Regions from separate parts of the Homo sapiens genome. Here all the other regions are linked to region 1. The links come from fine-mapping of genetic effects on gene expression. A gene starts in region 1. Each other region holds a variant in brackets. All regions are shown on one strand. Distances are between the middles of the regions. Region 1 holds the start of UBAP2 (ubiquitin associated protein 2). Region 2 overlaps UBE2R2 (ubiquitin conjugating enzyme E2 R2). Region 3 overlaps UBE2R2-AS1 (UBE2R2 antisense RNA 1).

Region 1 (2,764 bases):
CCCAAGAAATTATATGCCCTTCAAATAAAAGATAATCTTTGGATACCTTATGGAGACCTGAAAAAACCCTCAACTAGCTGAGCACCGTGGTGCACACTGTAATCCCAGATACTCAGGAGGCTGAGGTGAAAGAATCGCTTAAACCCAGGAGCTGGAGGCCAGCCTGGGCAACATATGGAGACCATATCTCTAAAATTAATAGTAATTTTTTAAAATCTCTCAACTGTTAGGATACACTGGTGCTGTAGAAAGACAATAAGCCTAAATACTGGCAAACCATATACCTTCCTTGAATGTGAGGTAAAAACAATATCCAATAGAAGTGGTAGTAAATGACTGGATTACATCAAACAGGAAATAACAGTAATAATGATGGGATCAACCCCTAAAGCGAGCAAGCATTAGAGACCAGAGTGGTGACAGTTGAGATGCGTGGGCAACTAATTAGACTAAAAACTCAGGGGAAAATGTGGAAAAGCCGAGTGGGAAAGTGATTCAGAGGCAAACAACTGAGTTGTAATGCACCAATGAAAGAATAACATTTTGAGTATGTATTATTAACAGAGAGAGCTTTGCCGTTTACAAAGCGCTCAAAAACCTACATTAAATAATGAACTGTGATATAACCAGACTACAGGAACGGCGGGTGTGGAGGAAAACTGAGTCCCAATTGAGACCAATGCCCTACAGAATTGAAAAGAAGTAGAACTGAACTGTGACTCCGGGTAAGCCAGGAAAGGTTAGAGAGCGCATAAGTTGGGGCTATAACAGGGCCAGTCCCAAGACTAGCTACGGGCGTGAAAGCGGAAAGGTGATGAGATGGGACCGACAGCGTGGCGGGGAAGCTCCAGTCTACTGGCAGGCACCGAGGTGGGAGAGAAAACCACACCCTCCAGGGCAGAAACCCGAAAGGGGGGAGGGGAGGCACCCCTGGGGCTGGGTGGGGCCCAGCCGACCTGGACGGGGGAAAGTAGGAAGAAGCACAGGGCAACGTGAGGGGAAGAGGAAGGAGGGAGCCCGGGCCTGGACGTAGAGGGACCGTGGACCTGGCGAGTGAAGCTCGGCCCGGTCCTCACGGGTGGGCGCCGGGGCAGTCTGCAGGCGGTGGGGTTTCAGACGAGCTGAACCCAGAATTAGAAAGCACACGCTGCAGCGCTCAGGGCCCTGGAAGAGGGAAGGAGAGGGAGAGGATGGCAATTACCGCTGCTGCTCTCGGAGGACCCAAGACCCGCTGCCGCCGCCGCCGCTCGTTACCTGCCAATGTGCCTCTTACAAAGCGGCGGCGGCGGCACAGGCTGCCCAACCCGTCACGTGACCTCGCGTCACGGGCGAAGGAGGAGCCACAACACGTCGCTCGTGCGCGGCTTCAGAGTCAGCCTAGGCGGCGCGCGGCCTCTTCCAGCCACCACCTCCACCCCAACCCCGCGAAGCCAACCGCGTGGAGGTGGGGACCACAGAAAGGAACAAATAAGGGAGACTTGATAATATGTATTGTACTCGGAGTCATCAGGAGAGTATTACCCACCGCATACAAGGTGCCCACAACTGCAGCTCGTCGTCGCGCCGTGATGACCTCACAAAGCACCACAGGTTACTCCCCTGTGGCCGCCCTGTGCTCATCACGTGATGTGGTCCAACCACTCAGGGCAAGCCTGGCCTCCCAAATGTTGCACGAGGGGACCACGACTCCCAACATGCTGCACAGCCAAGGCGACCCCTACCGCAGCCTTTCTCCAGCGGGCTTCTAGACGAACCCCCTAGAGACCTTAGAGCCGAGGGAAGGCCGGGACGGAAAGCGGACTAAGCTGGCTTGAAGGACTAATACCATTGGATGCCGCCCGCCATGTGGCGGAGCGTGGTGCCTGCTGGGAGGTGTAGTCCTGGCGGGGGGTGGGGTTCCGCTCCCACGTTCCTGGGCTCGCTCTGCGCCCTGCCCCCTGCGCGGGAAAACGCCAACGGCTAGCAGCGAGAGCCTCGGCAAGGCGGAAGGTGCGCCCACTTTTAGTCTTTTTCAGTGCGGTTTTACTTTTGCCCTCCCAAGCCCCTTCTGGGTGAAAAGACTAGAATCTACTGAACGCCTACTCCAAGTCAGCCGTTTATTTCTGTTATATCATATAATCAACTCCTTGAGTCCAGGATTTTCCCTATTTAAGGATTTAAAAAAAGAACCTTAGAGTTGTTTGTTGACCGAAGAGACCCAGGTTTTCTGTCTTTAGAAAATTAATGACCTCCTCTCAATAGGATCTGACCTGTTGTCAACTCCAAGAATTACGAATAAATAAGATGATGGTTTATAATTGTAGCATGGTGTTTTAAAGTATTTTCCATTTACTGGCCTGTTTGGATGTGAGGGCGTTCTGGCTATCTTGTCACCCCATAGATCGCCAGGGCTGATTCGGCTGATCTGGCTGTCTAGGCGGGTGGCCCCTTCCTCCCGCACCTCTCCATGTGCGTCCCTCCCGAAGCTGCATATTCGGTCGAAAAGGAGGAGCATCCCCCATAGAAGAGGACAAGTCAAGGATATAGGAGTAGCTGCACGCCCGTGTTAACAAGCTCTCAAGGTCCTCTAAACAAGCTCTCAAGGTCTACTTACTGGCCTGTTTTATCCCAAGCTAGTTACATACAAGGACTTTGCAGTCCCGGCATGCCTTATCTCAATTGGAGCTTTCCTCTGTAATAACACTTCACCGGCTTGTGAAAATTAAATGAGATTATGTAAAATGCCTGCTTGACACATAATAAACCCTCAGTAAGTATCAGTAAT
Region 2 (2,764 bases), 230 kb before region 1:
AAGCTTTCCCTACCATATCACTCTTCTCCCTTATTAAATGTTAGTCCTTGAACATTTAGTATAATTTATTTTCAAGTTAAACTCTTTTCCCTTTTTGGCATAGTCATTCGTGAAGGCAGTGGGACTGCCAGTCATTCTTTACATTTTTCATACTGTAATTCCTTTAACTTTTATATATTAATAGGTTTCTAACTGATCTTTTTCACCCTGAAATAGTTGGCTCTTGTCTCTTACCCACAGGATCTGCATTGGAGATTTGTGAGACCTGTATTTCACAGAATTTTTTTATTCATCCTGCTTTCGCTTATTTAATATCGCCAATCCACGTGATTCTTAGTTTTGGGCCATATAGATGTAGGATGGGCAAAGATAGTTTCTTCTGTCCATTCTGAATACTATACAATCTTTTTTGGCCTTACTATCTTTTTGTGTAGTTTCTTATTTTGCTACCTAAGCAAGTCGGAATTTTATTGTTACTAGAAAAATAAATTGTGGATCAAGTCAGTAGCTAATGAAGACTTTTAACAAGTTCACCCCCTTTCTTTTGAAAGGAACTTTTTCAGGGTCTTTCTCTGTCACTTAGTTTGGGGTACAGTGGTGTGATCATGGCTCACTGCAGCTTCCACATCCTAGGCTCAAGCAGTCCTCCCACCTCAGCCCCCTGAGTAGCTGGGACTACAGGCATGACTACGCCCGGCTAATTTTTTTTTCTTCAGTATTGTTAAGTGAGGTAGGGTCTCACTATTTTGTCCAGGCTGGTCTCAAACTCCTGGGTTCAAAGGATCCTCCTTTCTCAGCCACCCAAAGTGCTGGTTTTACAGGCGTCAGCCACCATGCCCGGCTGGAACTATCTTTTCAAATAACTCCTGCTAAGGATTGTAGCTTAGTGTGGGTGCTTTAGTACTGAACCTCCTTGGAACTTTTGCATTATTTATCTAAAGCATTATAGCAGTGAGTCTAGAGCCAGAAAGAGTGCCTCTTTTATGATATGCATAACAAAAAAAAATTTTTTTTTTTTTTGAGATGGAGTCTCACTCTTTTGCCAGGCTGGAGTGCAGTGGCACGATCTCAGCTCACTGCAACCTCTGCCTCCTGGGTTCAAGCGATTCTCTTGCCTCAGCCTCCCGAGTAGCTGGGATTACCGGCGTGCGCCATGAAACCTGGCTAATTCTTTTTGTATTTTTAGTAGAGACAGGGTTTCACCATGTTGGCCAGGCTGGTCTTGAACCCCTGACCTTAAGTGATCTGCCCATCTCAGCCTCCCAAAATGTAATCCTAATTAGAGGCCTGAGCCACCACTCCTGGCCAACCTTTTATAGTTTTGATTTTATTAAATAATTTGATTGAGGTAATGAAATATAGATGTGTTCCATTTTTAGAAAACTCCAGTCTGATAATTTAGAAAGTATTTGTTGTATACTTAAAGTTTTCCTTATTAGGAACATCTTTATTAGACTCAACACTGACATATATATATATATATTTTTTTTTTTTGAGACTGAGTTTTGCTCTTATTGCCCAGGCTGGAGTGCAGTGGAGCGATCT[C/T]GGCTCACTGCAACCTCCGCCTCCTGGGTTCAAGCGATTCTTCTGCCTCAGCCTCCTGAGTAGCTGGGATTACAGGCATGCGCCACCATGCCCAGCTAATTCTGTATTTTTGGTAGAGACGAGGTTTCTCCATGTTGGTTAGGCTGGTCTCAAACTCCTGACCTCAGGTGATCCCGCTCACCTCAGCCTCCCAAAGTGCTGGGATTACAGGCCTGAGCCACCACACCTGGCCTACACTGACTTACATTAAAGAAACTCTTCAAAACCTTTTTTTTTTTTTTTTAAGAGATAGGGTCTCACTTTGTTGCCCAGGCTGGAGTGCAGTGGTGTGATCATAGCTCACTGCAGCCTGAAACACTTGGGCTCAAGGGATCCTCTTGCCTCACCCTCCTGAGTAGCTGGGACTGCAGGTGCATACCACACTCGTTTTAATTTAAAAAAAAAATTGTTTATGCAGAAAGGGTCTCATAGGCCAGGCTGGTCTCGAACTCCTGGCTTCAAACAATCCTCCCACCTTGGCCTCCCAAAGTGCTGGTGTTACAGATGTGAGCTACCACACCCAGCCAAATAATTTTTTTTTTAATAAGAGAATATGCATTATTTCCTATGCTTCATTTGTTTTGCAATGAATGAATCTATTTTCTGCCTTCCCTCTTCCCCCTAAAAAAACAAACCAGACTTAGCCTAGATCTGGCAATGTCATTTAGATATTTTATTTCTTTTTTTTCTTTTTCTTCTTCTTATTAATTTTTTTTTTTTTTTTTTAGCTGAGTCTCGCTCTGTTGCTCAGGCTGGACTGCAGTGGTGTGATTTCGGCTCACTGCAACCTTTACCTCCTGTGTTCAAGCAGTTCTCGTGCCTCAGCCTCCCAAGTAGCTGGGATTACAGGCGTGCACCACCATGCCTGGCTAATTTTTGTAATTTTTAGTAGAGATGGGGTTTTGCCATGTTGGCCAGGCTGGTCTTGAACTCCTGGCCTCAAGTGATCTGCCCACCTTGGCCTCCCAAAGTGCTGGGATTACAGATGTGAGCCAGTGTGCCCAGCCTATTATTATTATTTTAGAGACAGAGTCTCGCTATGTTGTCCAGGCTTGTCTTGAACTCCTGGGCTCAAGTAATCCTCCCGCCTCAGCCTCCCAAAGCACTGCGATTATAGGTCTGAACCATTGCACCCAGCCTATTTTATGACTCTTTAATTGGTAAAATATAGTTGAAAAAA
Region 3 (2,764 bases), 270 kb before region 1:
CCGGGCGAGGTGGTGGGTACCTGTAGTCCCAGCTACTCTACTCGGGAGGCTGAGGCAGGAAAATGGCGTGAACCCGGGAGGCGGAGCTTGCAGTGAGCCGAGATCGCGCTACTGCACTCCACCCTGGGCGACAGAGCGAGACTGCGTCTCAAAAAAAAAAAAAAAAAGTAAGACTAGTTAAAGTAAAAACTTCATCATTGTATTATAGGATATATAAAATATATGTAATACAGAATGACACTAAAACTTAAAGGACGGGAGTAGGAAAAACATCTATTAGTTGCAAATTTCTTATATTTTAAGTAAACTTCTACAATACAGTAAGTAGACAAATAGTTTTAAATGTATCATTCTTTATTTTCCAGAATAGCCCTGAAAATATTAAAGAGGTATAGCAAAAAGCCAATAAATAAAAATCAAAACAGAATCCAAAAATATTATTCAAATATTTAAATAGAGTCTATTCTAGGAGCCAGTTTGGTCTAACATTAAAAAAATCAATCAATGTAACTCATCTTATTAACACATTTTAAAAAATCTATTTGATTATACCTACAGATAGAAAAAATTTGGTAAAATCCCAAACTCATTTATGATAAAAACACTCAGAAAATTAGGTTGAAAAAAGGGACTTCTTCAATCTAATAAAGGCACCTGAAAGAAACCAACAGCTTATGTCACACTTAATGAGAGAAATATTAAACGTCTTCCCATTTTTATTTCTTAAATACTAAACATGTTCAAGATCATAAAGAAGTCAATAATGTTCACTCTTAACCACTTCTATTCCATATTGTACTGATGCATAAAGACAAGAAAAATACTAAAAAGCTGAAGATCAAAGGATAAGGAAAACCTTTTTCAGAGATGAAAGGACTACTTACATCCAAATATTTAAAAAACTATACATTAACTACTCAAATTAATAAGTGCATACCTTAATTTATTATTACAACATATAAAAATTATATTTTGTATACTAATGGTAAACAATTGGATAATTCAATTTTAAAACCTAAATTTATATTAAAAACAAAATATTTAAATTTAGCAAAAGGCATGCAAGACTTGTATACAGAAAAATAAAAATAGTTGCTAAAGGAAATGAAAGACAGTTTTAAAATATAGAAGTATAAATCA[T/A]GTCCATGGATTGTTGCAGCCTCTGCCTCAGGAGTCCCCTGCAGCCTGGAACACCTAACAAAAGAAATGCAGGTGCAGTGCCAGGGATTGGAGGTGATTCCCCACAAGTCCTAGGAGCAAACCTTGTGAGGGGGCCATCTCTCTCCCCCACCCACCTCAGAGCATGCCTGTGAACAAGAAAGTACAAGAGCCACACAAGCTGGGTGTTAGCCTAGCTATCGGCCATTACTCTTAAGCGCCATCTACTGGATCACGGCACAAACTACCACACTAAAATTATCATGCTAATTATATATGCAAGATGTGAAACCAGGTGCAAGAATTCACCCACATATGCGGATTCTGTACAGAGCCCTGGCCCTCTGAAAGCATCCAGAAATGAATCCAACTGACCATACTCAACTTACCCCGCAGTTAAAGGAACACCAACCCTATCAGATGAGAAAGAATCAGCACAAGAACTCTGGCAATTCAAAAAACCACAGCATCCCCTTACATCCAAATGGATCACTAGCTCCCTAGAAATGGTTCTTAACCAGTCTGAAATAGCTGAAATGACAAACACAAAATTCAGAATCTGGATAGAAAGGAAGCTCATTGAGATTCAGAAGAAATTTGAAACTCAATCCAAGGAATCCAAGTAACCCGGTAAAATGATCCAAGAACTGAAAGATGAAATAGCCATTTTGAGAATCAGAATAAACTTCTAGAGCTCAAAAATTTACTACTAGAATTTAATAATGCAATTCTGCTGTAAATTCTGCTGTAAATTATTAATTAACAGCAGAACAGACCAAGCTGAGGAAAGAATCTCAGAGCTTGAAGATCAGTTCTTTGAATCAACTTAGATGAAAATTAAGACAAAAGAATTTAAAAAATGAACAAAACTGGCTGGGCGCGGTGGCTCACGCCTGTAATCCCAGCAGTCTGGGAGGCCGAGGCCGGCAGATCACGAGTTCAGGAGATCGAGACCATCCTGGCTAACATGGTGAAACCCCGTCTCTACTAAAAATATAAAAAAACTAGCCGGGCATGGTGGCAGGTACCTATAATCCCAGCTACTCGGGAGGCTGAGGCAGGAGAATGGCGTGAACCTGGGAGGTGGAGCTTGCGGTGAGCCGAGATAGCGCCACTGCACTCCAGCCTGGGTGACAGAGCGAGACTCTGTCTAAAAAAAAAAAAAAAAAAAAAAAAAAAAACCTCTAACAAATATAGGATTATGTAAAGATATAAAATCTATGACTCATTGGCATTCCTGAAATAGGAGGAGAAAGAGTAAGCAATTTCAAAAATGTATTTGAAAAACACCAAAAAAATTGCCTAATCTTGCCAGAGAGGTTGAAATTCAATTCCAAGAAATACAGAGAACCCTGGCTAGTTACTATATAAGACAACTATCCCCAAGACACATAGTCGTCAGATTCACCAAGGTCAAGGTAAAAGAAAAAAAAATTCTAAAGGCAGCTAGAGTGAAGGGTCAAGTCACATACAGAGGAAACCCCATCAGGCTAGCCACAGACTTCTCAGCAGAAAACTTATACGCCAGAAGAGATTGGGAGACTATTTTCAGCATCCTGAAAAAAATTTAACTAAAAATGTTATATCCTGTCAAATTAAACTTCAT

The links. PIP is the estimated chance that this variant, and not a neighbour inherited with it, causes the effect. A credible set is the group of variants that fine-mapping cannot tell apart.
Region 2: its variant is the best candidate, but not a certain one, in a credible set for the expression of UBAP2 in whole blood (INTERVAL, PIP 0.85).
Region 3: its variant is the best candidate, but not a certain one, in a credible set for the expression of UBAP2 in whole blood (INTERVAL, PIP 0.90).

The regions. Positions count from the first base shown.
Region 1 is chr9:34,047,624-34,050,387 of GRCh38, forward strand. UBAP2 (ubiquitin associated protein 2) reads right to left here and starts at 1,264. Exons shown (of 29, transcript NM_001370062.2): 1 at 1,202-1,264. It also overlaps the pseudogene RN7SKP114. RefSeq lists enhancers at 374-1,230, 1,231-2,086, 1,367-1,896, 2,087-2,764 and silencers at 1,047-1,096, 1,247-1,336.
Region 2 is chr9:33,820,615-33,823,378 of GRCh38, forward strand. All of the region lies in intron 1 of UBE2R2 (ubiquitin conjugating enzyme E2 R2), which reads left to right. Among named protein-coding and RNA genes, the nearest start is that of UBE2R2-AS1, 3.1 kb to the left of the region's middle. The variant C/T (reference allele first, on the strand shown) is at 1,546.
Region 3 is chr9:33,777,558-33,780,321 of GRCh38, forward strand. The region is part of intron 3 of UBE2R2-AS1 (UBE2R2 antisense RNA 1); the gene reads right to left. It also overlaps a transcript of PRSS3 not described here. Among named protein-coding and RNA genes, the nearest start is that of PRSS3, 17 kb to the right of the region's middle. RefSeq lists an enhancer at 1,526-1,585. The variant T/A (reference allele first, on the strand shown) is at 1,141.